Linked DNA regions of Homo sapiens: region 2 is linked to region 1. Evidence: fine-mapped expression QTL. A gene starts in region 1. The other region holds a variant in brackets. All regions are shown on one strand. Distances are from middle to middle.

The links.
Region 2: its variant is fine-mapped to the expression of CA6 in whole blood (TOPMed, PIP above 0.99). The same link has a PIP of 0.9 or more in sun-exposed skin.

What each region holds. Positions count from the first base shown.
Region 1 is chr1:8,942,547-8,950,941 of GRCh38, reverse strand. CA6 (carbonic anhydrase 6) reads right to left here and starts at 5,074. Exons shown (of 8, transcript NM_001215.4): 1 at 4,977-5,074; 2 at 1,500-1,679. The coding sequence starts at 5,055.
Region 2 is chr1:8,971,044-8,979,253 of GRCh38, reverse strand. It overlaps CA6 (carbonic anhydrase 6), which reads right to left. Exons shown (of 8, transcript NM_001215.4): 8 at 4,162-4,632. The coding sequence ends at 4,550. Among named protein-coding and RNA genes, the nearest start is that of CA6, 29 kb to the right of the region's middle. The variant T/C (reference allele first, on the strand shown) is at 4,715.

The DNA of each region.
Region 1 (8,395 bases):
ACCAGGCTGGTTTTATTTTCTTGATTGTGCAAGATAAGAACACTAAGTCCTGTGACCCTTTTATTTTTTTATTTTAAAGAAACGGTCTCGCTCTGTTGCCCAGGGTGGAGTACAGTGGTAATCTCGGCTCACCACAACCTTGACCTCCCAGGCTCAAGTGATCCTCCCACCTCAGCCTCCCGAGTAGCTGGGACTACAGGCACTCACCACCACTCCTGGCTAATGTTTTGATTTTTTGTAGAGATGAAGTCTCACCAAGTTGCCCAGGTTGGTCTCAAACTCTGGCATCAAGTGATCCTCCCACCTCAGCCTCCTAAAGTACTGGGTTTACAGGCATGAGCCACCATGCCTGGCCAAGTCCAGTGACTGTCCTATCGCTGTGTGGCAGGCAGGGATGTATCTCAACCCAAGCAGGAGTGAGAGAGTGCAGAACCTAAGGAGGATGTGGCCAAGAAACCTGACAACTGGGGGTGTGAGCCCATCTTGGCCATTAGACAGTGTGTGGCCTTGGGTGAGTCCCTCGACCTCCTGAGGCCTCAGACTTCCTGCCTAAAAAATGCCCCCTCCTGGGGTGGTCATGAGGCTCAGAGGAGTCGAGCCAACTTGGAAAATCAGGAGGATATTCTGCACAAGTAAAGCACAGATTTCACAGTTTCCAGGCCGGGCATGGTGGCTCGTGCCTGTAATCCCAGCACTTTGGGGAGGCTAAGGTGGGCAGATAACTTGAGGTCAGGAGTTCCAGACCAGCCTGGCCAACATGGTGAAACCTCGTCTCTACTAAAAATACAAAAAAAATTAGCTGGGCATGGTGGTGCATGCCTGTAATCCCAGCTACTCAGGAGGCTGAGGCAGGAGAATCGCTTGAACCCAGGAGGTGGAGGTTGCAGTGAGCTGAGATCCTGCCACTGCACTCCAGCCTGGGCAACAGAGTGAGACTCTGTCTCAAAAAAATAAACAAAATTTACAGTTTCTCATATCGGATTCCTGAAGTGGGGCATCCCCACGGCCCTGCTTTTTCTGTCTGACCTTCACCTTCTTTCTTGTAGGGATCAGAAAGCCAGAGCTTTCTTCTTAAAACTCTGAGAAACCCTGGTCCTACCTGTCAGGTGCTTTGAGCTGAATAGACTCAATATAGGAAATGTGGAAAAGCTGACCCAAGGTGATGGACAGAAAGCCCCCGTGGGAAGGGTGGCTTCAGCAGCACGGCCTGTCCTGCCTGTCACCTGCTGGGTGGGTTGGGTGAGCTCGGGTAAGAGGATAACGCTGCAGGAAGGGACCAGCAGGGAGTTGAGTCGAAAGATGGATGCTGCCCTCTCTGGAAGAGCCACTAGGTTTCGGGGCCAGTCAGCCCTCATGTTCGACCCTCATGTTCGAGGCCTCCAGCTCTGAGGCCGTGCTCTGTGTCTCTGTGCAAGCCATTCCTGGCAGGGACACGTGTAACCTGCCTTCCCCTGCAGGCTGCCCATGGACTGGAGCCCCTCACCACCCCTTCCTCTTACCTGTGTGGCCATTGTTGACCATGGGGAACTCCCCTGCCTGGGTCTCATAGCCTGTCATATTGAGCCCCTTCAAGGAGGGGTTGTACCGCACCTTCGTCCTCTGTAGGTTGATAGGCGACTGTCTCTGGCCCCCACAGGCGGGGTAGTGCTGTGGCCAGTGCGCTTCGTCCAGTGCCCCTTCTAAGACAGGAAAGACACAGTTCAAGGGGCTGCCTGGCTGCGCCCACTCTGGAGGAACCTCACCAGGCCAGAGGCCAGAGGCCAGGGCCTGCTGGGCGGGGACCCACGGAGGCACCTTCCAGAAAGCAGAAGCAGGTCCCCCAGAAGGAGGCCAAAAAGACAACGAGGTCAACTCCAAGGACTCTGGTGTTTGGGGGGCTTTGGTGCTAACCTCTAACTTTCCTGTGGCAACTGCTGGCCCTGGGAGCAAGACAGTGTTTTGAAATCAATGGAAGTCTTTTTTTTTTTTTTTTGAGACAGGGTCTCGCTGTGTCACCCAGGTTGGAGTGCAGTGGTGCAATCTTGGCTCACTGCAACCTCTGCCTCCCAGATTCAAGAGATTATCCGGCATCAGCCTCCGGAGTAGCTGGGATTACAGGCATGCACCACCACGCCTGGCTAATTTTTGTATTTTTAGTAGAGACGGGGTTTCACCATGTTGGCCAGGCTGATCTCTAACTCCTGACCTCAGGTGATCCACCCACCTTGGCCTCCCAAAGTGCTGGGATTACAGGCGTGAGCCACCGTGCCCGGCCTGAGAGTGTTTTATACGTAAATTTTTGCTCTCGTTTGACTTATTTCCAGCTGGTGAATGCATGGAGGGATCCTTGGCTTTGCTCTTCCTGTGCTGCTCCTGGGGCCTCTTCCTCATTTCCTCCCAAGGGCCCAGTTGTCCTTCCATGCCCCCAACAGGAACACAGCCCCCACCTCCCCATGCTGCAGGAACCCCCCACCACTATTTTCTTGCTCCAGCCCCTTTTATGGATTCCCGTATGGTAAAGACCATCTAGGTGTCTACACTTATGGATTCAGGGAAACTAAGGAAGCATCAGGTTCCAGGACAACCTAGAATGAGTACTTTTTTAAAATTCATAAGGAGAAAGTTTATCTTTTCAGAGAGGGTTGATAATCGTAGGGGACAGAGTAACATAGGTGAGTGATTATCATGGTGACTTGGCTCCCATACAGCTGTGGAGCTTGGAGTCAGCCATGTGACATGGAGAATCCCACCTCTGTTCCCTGTTCGGGGGTAGCTGTGTGGTGAGTACACAGCTTGTTTTAAGACAGGTGTTTGTGGCTGGGCACGGTGGCTCATGCCTGTAATCCCAACACTTTGGGAGGCCGAGGCGGGTGGATCACCTAAGGTTGGGAGCTCGAGACCCACCCTGACAAACCTGGAGAAACTCCATCTCTACTAAAAATAAAAAACAATCAGCCGGGCATGGTGGCACATGCCGTTAATCCCAGCTACTTGAGAGGCTAAGGCAGGAGAATCACTTGAACCCAGGAGGCAGAGGTTGCGGTGAGCCGAGATCGCGCCACTGCACTCCAGCCTGGGCAACGAGAGTGAAACTCTCAAAAAAAAAAAAAAAGGTGTCTGTACTAGGGCCCTCACCGCTTTTTGGTTTGTAATCAAGGCAATTGGCCTGGAGCACAACGCCTTCTCAGAGCAAGATGCTTTGGCCCAGGGCACTGTCAATACTGGAACATCTCTCAGGTTTCCCTGGAAGGCATTTACAAAAGCTACTCTCAAGTTCTCCTGGAGCCCCTAGTAGTTTCCCAGGAAGCCCACTGTCTCAGAGGCTGGGCAGAGCCTGGGAAGGACAAGGACTTCATTGTCTGAATTCTCTCTTCCTTCACCTCTGAACCACCTGCCTGCACTGCTTGGCCAAGTGAAGCAGAATGCCCCAGGCTTCCGAGGCACTGCCATGTGTAAGATCACTGTCCTCAGGAACAGAGCGGTTGTTCAGAGCTGGCTGGACTTTCTGAACCTCCCAGGATGTCCCTAATTCCGTTGCCCTTGACTTAACAGATCATCCCGTTCACCCTGAAGGAATGCTTCCGGAGCAGCTGAACTGGGGCAGACTCTGCAGGAAGCAGATGTTTGTCTCACTTCCTGCATCAGCCAGCGGCCACCAGCCTCCTCATGGGCCCCAATCCATGGTCCCGTATGGAAAGAAGGGGGATGCGGGAAGAAGCTCTCCTCACTGCCCCTGGAAAGGGCTGTTTAGTGTCCACAAAGTCCACAGACACGGCCTTCTAGCTTTGGCTCACATGTGGACCAGAACCCATGTTGAATGCCAGGATTTTACATTTCACATTTTAAAAGTCTGGTTTGGGGCCTGGCGCGGTGGCTCACGCCTGTAATCCCAGCACTTTGGGAGGCTAAGGTGGGCGGATCACTTGAGGTCAGAAGTTTGAGAACAGCCTGGCCAACGTGGTAAAACCCCATCTCCACTAAAAATACAAAAGTTAGCCAGGCATGGTGATGAGTGCCTGTAATCCCAGCTACTTGGGAGGCTAAGACATGAGAATCGCTTGAAACCAGGAGGCAGAGGTTGCAGTAAGCCGAGATGGCACCACTGAACTCCAGCCTGGGCAACAGAGCAAGACTCTGTCTCAAAAAAAAAAAAAAAACAAAAAAAAAAACACCTCTCATTTTGGCAGCCCACAGATCAAAGGGAACTGGGTCCTTATGTCAAGATGTTCTGGGTAAACTGCCTACCATGAAATTTCCAAGAAAGAAGGTCTCGCAAACCCCACAGCACCTTCCGTGAGGTTACCGAGAGTCTTTTCTAAGAACTTTGTTTTCCACTTACACGGACCAACAAAGCAAATGGTTTTACAAATAGAAGCAGTGAGTGTGCTTTTGAACCAGCCAACACTGTGGATGGAAAAAAATTTAAAGCAAAAAGCCTGTAAGTAAATCAGGAGTTTGTGAAGGGGAAAGCTATTTCCTTCTTTTCCTTATTTGAAGTTTAAGTTCAGCTTATTCTCCATACCTTCTGAGACACTGAAAAGGTAACATCTGAAGCCACAATGAGCAGACCCCCAACATATGGCAAGTGGGCTGCCTGGCCATCCTGTGAAATGCCCTAAAGGAGGACTCTTGGCCGGGCGCAATGGCTCATGCCTGTAATCCCAGCACTTTGGGAGATGGGCAGATCACCTAAGGTCAGGAGTTCGAGACCAGCCTGGACAACATGGTGAAACCCTGTCTCTACTAAAAATACAAAAATTAGCCAGGCATGGTGGCAGGCACCTGTAATCCCAGGTACTCGGGAGGCTAAGGCAGCAGAATCACTTGAACCCGGGAGGCGGAGGTTGCAGTGAGCCAACATCACACTACTGTACTCAAGCCTGGGCAACAGAGCAAGACTTTGTCTAAAAAAAAAAAAAAGAAGAAGAAGAAGGGCACTTGTCCTGTTGTAAGGGTGTGAGGGTAACTGGGGGAGCATGCAGAAGCTAGGGGCTCACCTGAGTAGGTCCAGTCAGACACATGCTGGGCCTGGCCACCCAGCAGGAACAGGGACAGCAGAAGCACCAGGGCCCTCATGGTGCTGCACATCTGTAATGAAGACTGATTCCGGCGAAGCTCTTCTTTTAAAGGCTCAGAAACTGTAAATAACAATTTACAATTGATCTGCCCAGCTGGCTAAACCACCCTTTGCTGCACCCACTAAAACAATAACACCCTCCCCATAACAGCACTTCTGGCTCCGTGCATTGCGCCAGGCAGCCCCAGCACCTGCCTGATCTCCTCCCACGTCAATTTCATATCCGGTCAGTCCATGGGTTTGGTTGTTCAGTGTCTTAGGAACACCTGAAGAGCCACACAGTGCAGCCATTGTGGACAGGTGACCGCGGAAATGGGAAAAGGCCCAAGGCAGGGAGAAGCAGGATGAAAGACTTTCCTGGACGTCGGACTTCCCATGCTCTTTCTCCTGACATTAGAGATCTGGGGACTGCTGATGGGATCACCACTGCCTGCAAACCCTGCCCATCTCAGTCATGGACACAAGCCACCGCTGCAGACATGTGGCTGCCCTCAGCCAGGCATCCAGGGAGGTGGCCTGGCCTCCATGTTTGGACATTTCACGGTCCTCTCCTTAAACCAGTGGTTGATCCTGGGTCCCAGCTCATGAGCCACATTCCAATGTGTGCCTTTATGCCATTCAAGCTGGTGTGGGCGTCTGCATTTCTACATGGATTTGTTCTGACACCTGCAGGGCTCTTGGGCACACCTAAGCCAATCAGCCAATTGCCCTCGCAGGATCCATGGATTACCTAATCCTGTGTATTCACTTGGCTAGACAGTCCCTGAAATTAGCTGAAGGAGAAACTTTTGAGTTTATGCCTGCTGACAGGCCAGCATTTCCCATGCCCTTCCACAAGGTCAAACACAAAGGGTAGCCGGAGCTCCTGCGGGGGGGCTACCATGCTGCCGGACACAAAGGGCCACCCCTGCCTTGTTATGGGGAGCTGAACCCCCTCCTGGCCTAGCTTAACTCATTGTCCACTTGGTCCTGGAATGGCAAACGTCAGCAGGCCTTCACAACAAGGATGTTAGCGGTGAACGTAGGCCTCCCGAATACTTCTAAGACTCCCCACTGTCATTTAATAGGGAACATCAGCTGCTGCAAAGAACTTGCTGGAAACTTCCATTTCTAAAGCTCAAGAGCTGAAAGAATCTCAGAGAGAGAGCAAAGCATGTTCAAGGACAAGGATTCTGAAACTAGACAGGATCTGTGCCACCTGCTAACTGTGTGACCATGGGCAACTCAGCGCTCTGTGCCTCAGCTTTCCTTCCTTTTCTTTTTTCTCTTTCTTTCTTCCTTTCTCTCTTTCTTTTCTTTCTCTCTTTCTCTCTTTCTTTCTTTTTTGAGACAGGGTCTCTCTCTGTCACCAGGCTGGAGTGCAATGATACGATTTCAGCTCACTTCTCTTGGACTCAAGCAATCCTCCTGCCTCAGCTTCCCAAGTAGCTGGGACCACAGTCGCATGCCACTACGCCCTGCTAATTTTTGTACTTTTTGTAGATACAGGTTTTCACCATGTTGCTTAGGCTGGCCTCAAACTCCTGGACTCAAGCGATTCTCCCGCCTCGTGCTCCCAAAGTGCTGGGATTACAGGCGTGAGCCGCCGCACCTGGCCGCCTCCTTTCTTTAAAAGGAGTTAGTGATAGCACCTCCTTTGTGGGGATTCGGCAATAAATGTGCCTGCAGTAGTTGGAGCAGTGCCTGGTGTGTAGCAAATGGCATTAGCATCTATTCAGACCCCTCATTTTATAGGAAAAGGAAGTGATTTATCATTGCCACCCAGCTGGTTAGTGAGGGAACTGGAGGAAAAATGCTTCAATCTCCAGCTTATGGACCATTTCTTTGCAAAAATGAGAAACCTACTCTTCTGTCCTTGCTAAACCAGTGACGCCCACCTGCTGACTCCCAGCCCTGCGGAAAGGGCCACCTTGTAAATCACAAGGCCCCACCTCTGCTGAGGAGACCAAGACCCTTTACAAGCCCAGGCAGGACCCCTGACATCAAACTGGCAGGAAAACACAAACTCAGTCATCTGAATTTTTTCTTGGGAATCTGAATTGGGAGACCCAGAAAGAATCAGGGAGCTGCAGGCAGGCAGAGACTAAAATGTCAGGCTGTCACGGAAGCCTGGGAGGACTGGATGAGCCCAGGCGAGGGGAACTGGAGCAGGAAGGAGCTCAGAGAAAGCCTGGGCCAAGGGGGAGGGGAAGACTGCCCAAAGAGGGGCCCTGGAGAGTCAGAGAGAGGAGTGCTTGCGGGAGAGCACAGTGAAATGCAGAGGGCCCACCACTCCTGGCAGCTCCCAGCCCCACGGGTCTCACTGCCCTGCGGTGAGCATTTGGGGCTTCCCAGGAGAGCTCTGGGGCGTTCCTTGCCTCACACAGCTCCTTAAAATACAGTGCACATACTGCGTCTGTGAAGCTGTGATGCCAGCAGCCCCTCTGCAGAACTGCTGTGCAGCGTATCCACCCATCACATCTGAAGCTTTGCCCTGGTTTTGCCTTTCGCTCAGGCAAGAGCCTGGACTGGCCAGCAACCTGTTGACCTGGCTGGTGTTGAGAATTGGTGTGAAAGTGAGTAATTAAGGCAATACGGGGGTCAGATCAGATGATGGCCTCTTGGAGAAGCAAGGCCATCTGCCAACGAGGGCATATTTCTAGAGAGAGGGTCCCCTCCCTCCGCTGTACAGCACACTGCCAAGGACATACTGGACCCAGAATCAGGTGTGGTCAGTAGTGTTGCCTATTTTCTGACTCCTTGTCTACTTCAAACCTGAAATTTTCCGTCACCTTTGAACATGAGTCTTCTTCTTGGATTTGGGAGGCACATTGTTTGTTTGGGTTTGCTTTTGTTGGTGGTGGTGGCAGTGGGTTTTTGTTGTTGTTGTTTTTGGTTTTTGGTTTCTTTTTTGAGACAGGGTCTCACTCTGTTGCCCAGGCTGGAGTGCAGTGGTGCAATCATGGCTCACTGCAGCCTCCCAGTGCTCAGGTGATCCTCCCGCCTCAGCACCCCCTTCCGCCTCATCCCCTCCAAGTAGCTGGGACAACAGGTGCGTGCCCTATGTGTGCTCTGTTTTTGTTGCTTTTATTTTTAGTGTGTCTCTCTATGCTATGAGCTTCCTTCTGCCTTCATCCAACCATATCCTTGGCTGATCAAGGTTGTTTTTTTAATTCTAAACTCCTATTTTTCTAGGGTCTATGGTTGGATTGGCTGTCGGAGATGAGTTGACAAGTTTATCATTATTACAACATCAGGTCAAAGGGAGAAAGGAGCCTTTGTTCTTCCTTGCTTCTACCACTGCCCCCCCGACAAGGCCCACTGAGGCAAGGAAAAAGAAGGAGGCAGGGAGGCATGGCC
Region 2 (8,210 bases), 28 kb before region 1:
TCCCACCTCAGCCTCCCAAAGTGCTGTGATTAAAGGTGTCAGCCATGAAGCCCAGCCTAATTTTTCAATTTGGATCTCTGTTTTTTATGCTGAAAATCTTGTTAGTGAGGACATTAACATAATTATTTGTGCACATATAGTAGTAGAGGATAGTAATTGCACACACACACAATTTCAAAATAACAATACCAATATAATTTTTAAGAGGATTCCTAAGTACTGTTTAAGATTCCTTGGTACTTCTTCTTGTCCTTAGGATATACTGCAGCAGGTATGTAGATGAAAAATACCGTGTCTAAAATAACATGAAAAAATCCTTCAGTGTTCATGCCACCGGCCCTATGTATAATTGTTCAATTGTTCTGCTATATTTTTATGTTGAAACGTAACTCGCGTTTTATGTTTCAGGAATGCTTTTTTCCTTACTTACTTAATTTTACTTTGCAATTACATAAAGCCTGATGTTCCAAAGTCAAAACTACCAAACAGGGCACATCCAGAAAACTCCACCTTCCCACGCCACCCTCAGCACCCTTCCCCTGCCTTCTCTTTTTAGGAAACCTTTTTTTGTTGTTGTTGTTTTTTTTTTTTTTTTTTTTTTTTTTTTTTTTTTTTTTGAGACAGAGACTTGCTCTTTCGCCCAGGCTGGAGTGCAGTGGCGCGATCTCGGCTCACTGCAAGCTCCGCCTCCCGGGTTCATGCCATTCTCCTGCCTCAGCCTCCCTAGTAGCTGGGACTACAGATGCCCGCCACTACGCCCGCCTAATTTTTTGTATTTTTAGTAGAGACGGGGTTTCACTGTGTTAGCCAGGATGGTCTTGATCTCCTGACCTCGTGATCCGCCCCCCTCGGCCTCCCAAAGTGCTGGGATTACAGGCGTGAGCCACCGCGCCTAGCCTAGGAAACCATTTTAATTTATTTTTGGTTTCTTTTTCCCTGTTTGTGCTTCAAAACATAAACAAATACTTAACTATATTCATATTTCTAATTCTTCTTGTGCCATCTGTAAAATTGCTTTTTTCAGGCTTAAAAACATAGCCTACAGGCCAAGCGCAGTGGCTCATGCCTGTAATCCCAGCACTTTGGGAGGCCAAAGCGGGCAGATGATCTGAGGTCAGGAGTTCGAGATCAGCCTGGCCGACATGGCAAAACCCATCTCTACTAAAATTACAAAAATTAGCCAGGGCGTTAGTGGCATGCACCTGTAATCCCAGCTACTCAGGAGGCTGAGACAGAAGAATCACTCGAGCCTGGGAGGCAGAGGTTGCAGTGAGCTGAGATCGTACCACTGCACTCCAGCCTGGGTGACAGAGACTCCATCTCAAAAAAAAGAAACAAATGTAGCCTAGAGATTATTCCCTATGCAGTTCTCTGTTGTGTGAATAGCCCTGGTTTAGTCAACCAATCCCCAACTGATGGACGTTTGTGTTTTTTCCTGTATTTTGCTGTTAAAAAGGTCAGCATGAATGGCTTTTTTGCAAGTTTCTTTCTTTCTTTCTTTCTTTCTTTCTTTCTTTCTTTCTTTCTTTCTTTCTTTCTTTCTTTCTTTCTTTTTTGAGATGGAGTCTTGCTCTGTCGCCAGGCTGGAGTGCAGTGGCACGATCTCAGCTCACTGCAACCTCCGCCTCCTGGGTTCAAGCGATTCTCCTGCCTCAGTCTCCCGAGTAGCTGGGATTACAGATGCACGCCACACCCAGCTAATTTTTTTGTATTTTTAGTAGAGATGGGGTTTCACCATGTTGGCCAGGATGGCCTCGATCTTCTGACCTGATGATCCACCCACCTCGGCCTCCCAAAGTGCTGGGATTACAGGCGTGAGCCACCGCGCCCGGCCACAAGCCTCTCTTAAGGATAGACTTTCAGGGGTGGGAGGGCTGGATCCCTGAGGACAGGCAAGTGTAATCCCATCTCCATCTTCATTTCCTTGTCTGCCTTCCCACAGGAATGTAAGTAAGCTCTTTGGCCGTACCGCCCACTGTTGCGTCTCTCATTCATTATAGACACACATATCTGGTGGAAAGAATGAATCGCACCGTGTCGTTCCCCTGTGGAAACCCTGCAGTCGCTGCCGTCACCTACAGGGTAAAATCCGAAACCCTTTAGTGGCACAGAAGATACCAGTGACGGCCTGACCTGCCCTGGCCACACCCCCGCTTTCCGTGCCAGCATCCTTGAACTTGGTCCTCTGACCACGCCAAATTGCTTCCACTTCCCCAGGTGTCTTCCCATCAGCACATGCCACACTCTCGGGTTACAATACCCCCGCCCCTCTCTGACTTGGTTTCCCAGGTGAACTCTTTCTCAGCCTTCAAAACCCAGGCCAAGCACTTGGATTTTAAACACAGGCGCTCCCTCCACCATGGGGCGATATGGCGATTACTTATTTTAGTGTCCACTCTGCTCACCAGACCCGAGCTGTAGGAGTGTGGGAGCTGTTCTCACCCATCCCTGAACCCCCAGCACCTAGTGTTATGTCAGGCTCAGAGCAAGTGCATAAGAAAGCTTGTTGAGAAAATGAAAGGGAGGCTTCCTATGGTTAAAAGAATGTGGATACAAAAGACTTGGGTTCAAATCCTGGCTTTTCATCTGCCACCTAGGAGATCTTGGGCAAGTCGACGTCTTGGTTTGCTTTCTGTAAACTGGGGATAATGCAAGTTCACTGAAGGTGGCCTTCGGGGCTGAGGGCAGTCACGTGTGGTGGAAGTGCTTAGGATATGACAAATAATGACATGGAAAAACAACAGAGGTAACAAGAGCAGAAGGAATTCAGAAGAGCCAGGGTGAGCTCAATCAGAAGTGAGGAGGAAGCTAAGGCATGGGAAGGAAGGGGCATCGATGAAGGGAATGCATAAGTGACCAAGAAAATTGGTAGCAGCCAGGTGTGGTGGCTCATGCCTATAATTCCAGCACCTTGGGAGACCAAAGGTAGGAAGATCACTTGAGCCCAGGAGGTTGAGGCTGCCATGAAGCTAGGATCACCACTGCACTCCAGCCTAGGCCACAGAGCAAGATCCTGTCTCAAAAAACATAAAAATAAAAATAAAAAATATGGGTCACTCTTCTGGGTACTTCTCAGTGTTATTTAATGATAAAAAAAATATGGGTCACTCTTCTGGGTACTTCTCAGTGTTATTTAATGAAGCCACAGCCCTATGAGCCCTGTGAGGTCATGTTATCATCCCACATAACTAATGGGATGCCTGAATCTGGGTCTGGTAACAAGGACCAGGCACCATTTGACCAACAAGGGGGTTTGCAGTGAGGTCCCCTCTCTTCTTTCCTTCTGTCCTGGGAGCCCTTCTTCTTTCTCGTCTCCTGTTTTTTCTTTGACTCACAGCCACTGCTCCAAACTTCCCCACTGACAAATTCTCAGTGTAAGAATCTCTTCCTAGGCCAGGGGTGGTGGCTCACGCCCGTAATCCCAACACTTTGGGAGGCCGAGGCAGGAGGATCACCTGAGATCAGGAGTTTGAGACCAGCCTGGCCAACATGGCAAAACCCCATCTCTACTAAAAATACAAAAATTAGCTGGGCGTGGTGGTGCACACCTGTAATCCCAACTACTTGGGAGGCTGAGGCAGAATAATTGCTTGAACCCAGAAGGCAGAGGTTGCAGTAAAATTATACCACTGGATTCCAGCCTGAGCAACAAAGCGAGGCTCTGTCTCAAAGGAAAAGAAAAGGCCAGGCGCGGTGGCTCACGCCTGTAATCCCAGCACTTTGGGAGGCCGAGGCGGGCGGATCATAAGGTCAAGAGATCGAGACCATCCTGAGCAACATGGTGAAACCCCGTCTCTACTAAAAATACAAAAAATTAGCTGGGCATGGTGGTGCGCAACTGTAGTCCCAGCTACTCAGGGAGGCTGAGGCAGGAGAATTGCTTGAACCCAAGAGGTGGAGGTTGCAGTGAGCCAAGATTGTGCCACTGCACTCCAGCCTGGCAACAGAGTGAGACTCCATCTCAAAAAAATAAGCAACAACAACAAAAAACACCTCCTTCCTTTTTATTAATCTTAGTCTTGGAAATCCCTCCCACTTTGATCTCTATCCCTTCACCTATGTGCGGTTGTGGGGGAGTAGGGGGAGGAGTGGGGGGAGGAGTCGGGGGCGGGCAGAACAAAGAAGGGATATTTGAAGTAATACAAAGGAATAGGAAAGAAATTTTTAAATGACAAATTTCCAAAGTTATTTTATTACATCTAATGCTAAAGGAAAGGTCAGGCTGGTTTATAATTCAGACAGGTCAACATATATGATTTGATGGGAGAATAGTTAGGGTTCCATTTCCTTTAAGTTTCTATTCCAATCAATTTCCACTGGTGATGTCTAACTCAGATCCCGTCTCATGAACTGAAGCCATCTCACTTCCTGTCCAGGATGATCGTTTCCCCTCTTTTAATCAGAATCCCAACAGCTGCCCCAGGGGGAGCAGCGTGTTCCAGACACACATGGTTTCTTAGACAAGGTAGGGTGCGGCTGCAGCGGACAGGCACTTCTGGCTAGGTCAGGCTTCAAGCTAGTTAATATTGAATCTTCCTCTTAGCTTTCCTCAGTTCAATGCTCTTCTTAAGTAGTCAAGAATTTCCTCAATCTTATGTAGGTAAAACTGGAATTCAGAGCCTAGAGTGTATTCTGTAAAAAGAAGAGTTAGTCGGAAATGGTTAAACCTTGTACAGTCCTCACAAAAACAGAGAAGGGGGACGGCCAGACACCA[T/C]ACCCGCATCGTATTTTTGGGAAGTCTTTTGATTCCTTAGAATGCTCTCCACGTGCCCGGTGCATTGCCTTTAGTCATCTTCACTGTGTTTGAACTCAGGCTTCTAAGCTGCCCAGAGCCAAGGGGTGGCGTGTTGAGGTGGGCTGTACTCTTGGATTTTGGCTTCTCCCACGATGCCCCCCGTGGCCCTTGCCTGAGGGGATATAGGCGTTTTCTAGTAAATAAATCGCAAGAGGTCCGTATTTGGCCATCGTCTTGTTTTTGTAACTGACCTTGGTTTCTCAATTCACTCCTTGCAGGTGGGTTAATCATATCAACCCCGCTGGGATACAGTTCTCTACAGAACAGTGAAATACCATGAGTCACGCAGCTGGGTTGACCACAGCCAATCACTGCTACATAGAAATCTGGGCCTGGCCAGGCGCGATGGCTCATGCCTGTAATCCCAGCACTTTGGGAGGCTGAAGTGGGTGGATTGCTTGAGCTCAGGAGTTCGAGACCAGCCTGGGCCACATGGCCAAAGCCCGTCTCTACAAAAAAATACAAAAATTAGCTGGGTGTGGTGGTACATGCTACTCCCAGCTACTTGGGAGGTCGAGGTAGGAGGACTGCTTGAGCCCTGGAGGTCATGGCTGCAGTGAGCCAAGATTGCGCCATTGCACTCCAGTCTGGGCAACAGAGCAAGACTCTGTCAAAAAAAGAAAGAAAGAGAGGAAGAAAGAGAGAGAGAGAGAGAGAGAGGGAGGGAGGGAAAAGAAAGAAAGAAAGAAAGAAAGAAAGAAAGAAAGAAAGAAAGAAAGAAAGAAAGAAAGAAAGAAAGAAAGAAAGAGAGAGAAAGAAAAATCCAGGCCTGAGGGAAGGTGGGCCAAGATGATGCCCAGTTGTCTGTTCTATAATCAGCAAAGGGAGGCCACAATTCGGGTTCCCTGGGGGTAAGGAAGCCCTCTGATGCTGAACTGGGAGTTGAAGTAATCGATCCTAAACAGCGATTCTTAGTGGACCTACAGACAAATCACAGCATGGAATACCTCAGTCTGGGGCCGGTACCTAGAACATCTGACCCCCTCGTGAGGAGATGCTAGAGTGACGCTGTAGTGGAAAAAGCATTTCAGATGTGGCAAATAGAACGATACGCAGTCTGTTAGTGACTATTGCAAGAATAGCGTAAAATTGTTTTAGGGAAAGCAGGGGAAATATGGCAACATTTAGACCTAGGAGACAGGCCGGGCACAGTGACTCACACCTGTAATCCCAGCAATTTGGGAGGCCGGGCAGGCGGATCACCTGAGGTCAGGAGTTCAAGACCAGCCTAACCAACATGGTGAAATCCCATCTCTACTAAAAATACAAAAATTAGCCTGGCGTGGGGGCGCGTGCCTGTAATCCCAGCTACTTGGGAGGCTGAGGCAGGAGAATTGCTTGAATCTGGGAGGCGGAGGTTGCAGTGAGCCCATGAGATTGCACCACTGCACTCCAGCCTGGGCGACAGAGTGAGAGACTCCAAAAGAATTAGGAGACAGACCCATGAGTCTAAGCTCCCTTTGGTCAGCCTGCTTGCAATTGGACCTGTTAAAGACGACATCACTTTCGGACAAAGGGATTCTTGCTGTTAATGTTGTATATGGTATAATATGGGGAAATGATTACTGTAACTGATGTCAGTTTTTTTCTTCTGTTAGTATTGTATTGGAGGAGTGAATTGTATTTCAGGAAACAATATAGAAAACACCTATATCCTCTGTTAATTCAGTAAGTGAACCAGGAAGGAAAGGTGGGGAGAAAATCACAAATAGGCCTTATTCGGGTTGGGGAGGTGGAAATTTAATTTTTTTGTTTGTTTGTTTGTTTTGGTTTTTTGAAACAGAGTCTCTCTCTGTCGCCCAGGCTGGAGTGCAGTGGCGCAATCTCGGCTCACTGCAAGCTCCGCCTCCCGGGTTCATGCCCAGCTACTCAGCCTCCCCAGTCTCAGCCTCCCCAGTAGCTGGGACTACAGGCGCCCGCCACCTCGCCTGGCTAATTTTTTGTATATTTAGTAGAGGCGGGGTTTCACCATGTTAGCCAAGATGGTCTCGATCTCCTGACATCGTGATCTGCCCGCCTCAGCCTCCCAAAGTGCTGGGATTACAGGCGTGAGCCGCCACACCCGGAGGAAATTTAAGTTTTAAAAGGTACATATAAAGATGGGATAAGGCCGAACGAGGTGGCTCGTGCTTATAATCCCAGCACTTTGGGAGGCTGAGGGGGGAGGATTGCTTGTGGCCAGGAGTTTGAGACCAGTCTGAGCAACATAGTAAGAGTCCATCTCTACAAAAACTACAAAAAAAATTAGCTGGGTGTGGTGGTGTGTGCCTGCAGTCTCCGCTACTGGGGAGGCTGAGGTGGGAGGATCACTTGAGCCTGGATGTTTGAGGCTGCAGTGAGCCGTGATTGTGCCACTGAGCTCCAGCCTGGGCAACAGACTGAGACCTTGTCTCAAAAAAGAAAAAAAAAGTGGGATAATATTGAGTACACAATATTGATAGGATACTGATTCTACTGTATTGGAAAATATAAAGGTATCAGGAATGGTTAACAGAATGGGCTGTAAAGACAATGGATTCACCACAACTTTACAGAAAGCAGACAAAATAAAGATGAGGAGGCTGTGAAATATTTACACTCTTGCCAACACAGAAACGAGGTGAGCCAAGGACACGGTTGGAGCCTGATCCAAGGAACTGGAGGATGCAGCGGAGGCTGGCCTGCCCGCACCTGCTTCCAGCACGCTGGGGTCTGGGGCCTGCGCCCCAGGCAGATGCAGGGAACAATATGTGGTCTAGTTAACTCCACTTTGAGAGAATGTATAGGAGGCGTTGGGGGTGGGTTCATAACACAGACTATGATCAAGATGCGCAGGAAATAATCTGGGTGGGGTTAATAAGGTTAACTTGGCCAGGCACGGTGGCTCCCGCCTGTAATCCCAGCACTTTGGGAGGCCGAGGTGGGCAGATCACCTGAGGTCAGGAGTTTGGGACCAGCCTGGCCAATATGGCAAAGCCCCATTTCAGTTAAAAAAAAAAAATTAGCCGGGCGTGGTGGTAGGTGCCTGTAGTCCCAGCTACTGGGGAGGTTGAGGCAGGAGAATTGCTTGAACCCGGGAAGCAGAGGTTGTAGTGAGACGAGATTGCACCACTGCACTCCAGCCTGGGTGACAGAGTGAGACTCTGTCTCAAAAAAAAAAAAAAAAAAGGTTAACTTGAACCTACACTCTTGTGAGAGCTTCCGGATGTTGTGGTCTTCTTGCTTCTCCTGCTCTCTCTAGCCAAGACTAGGTAGGTAATAAATCACGTAGCTGTCGCTTCTGATTGTCTCGTGTGTTCTACTCACTGGCATCCCTGCCTGGACTGGGAAAAAGTCATCACCCTCTGCCCAAGCCCTGTGCAGCTTGGCCCACCTGAGCCTCTTGCTACTGAAATGACTCTCCTTCCCTTATATCACCAGAAGAGATGGGTCCACC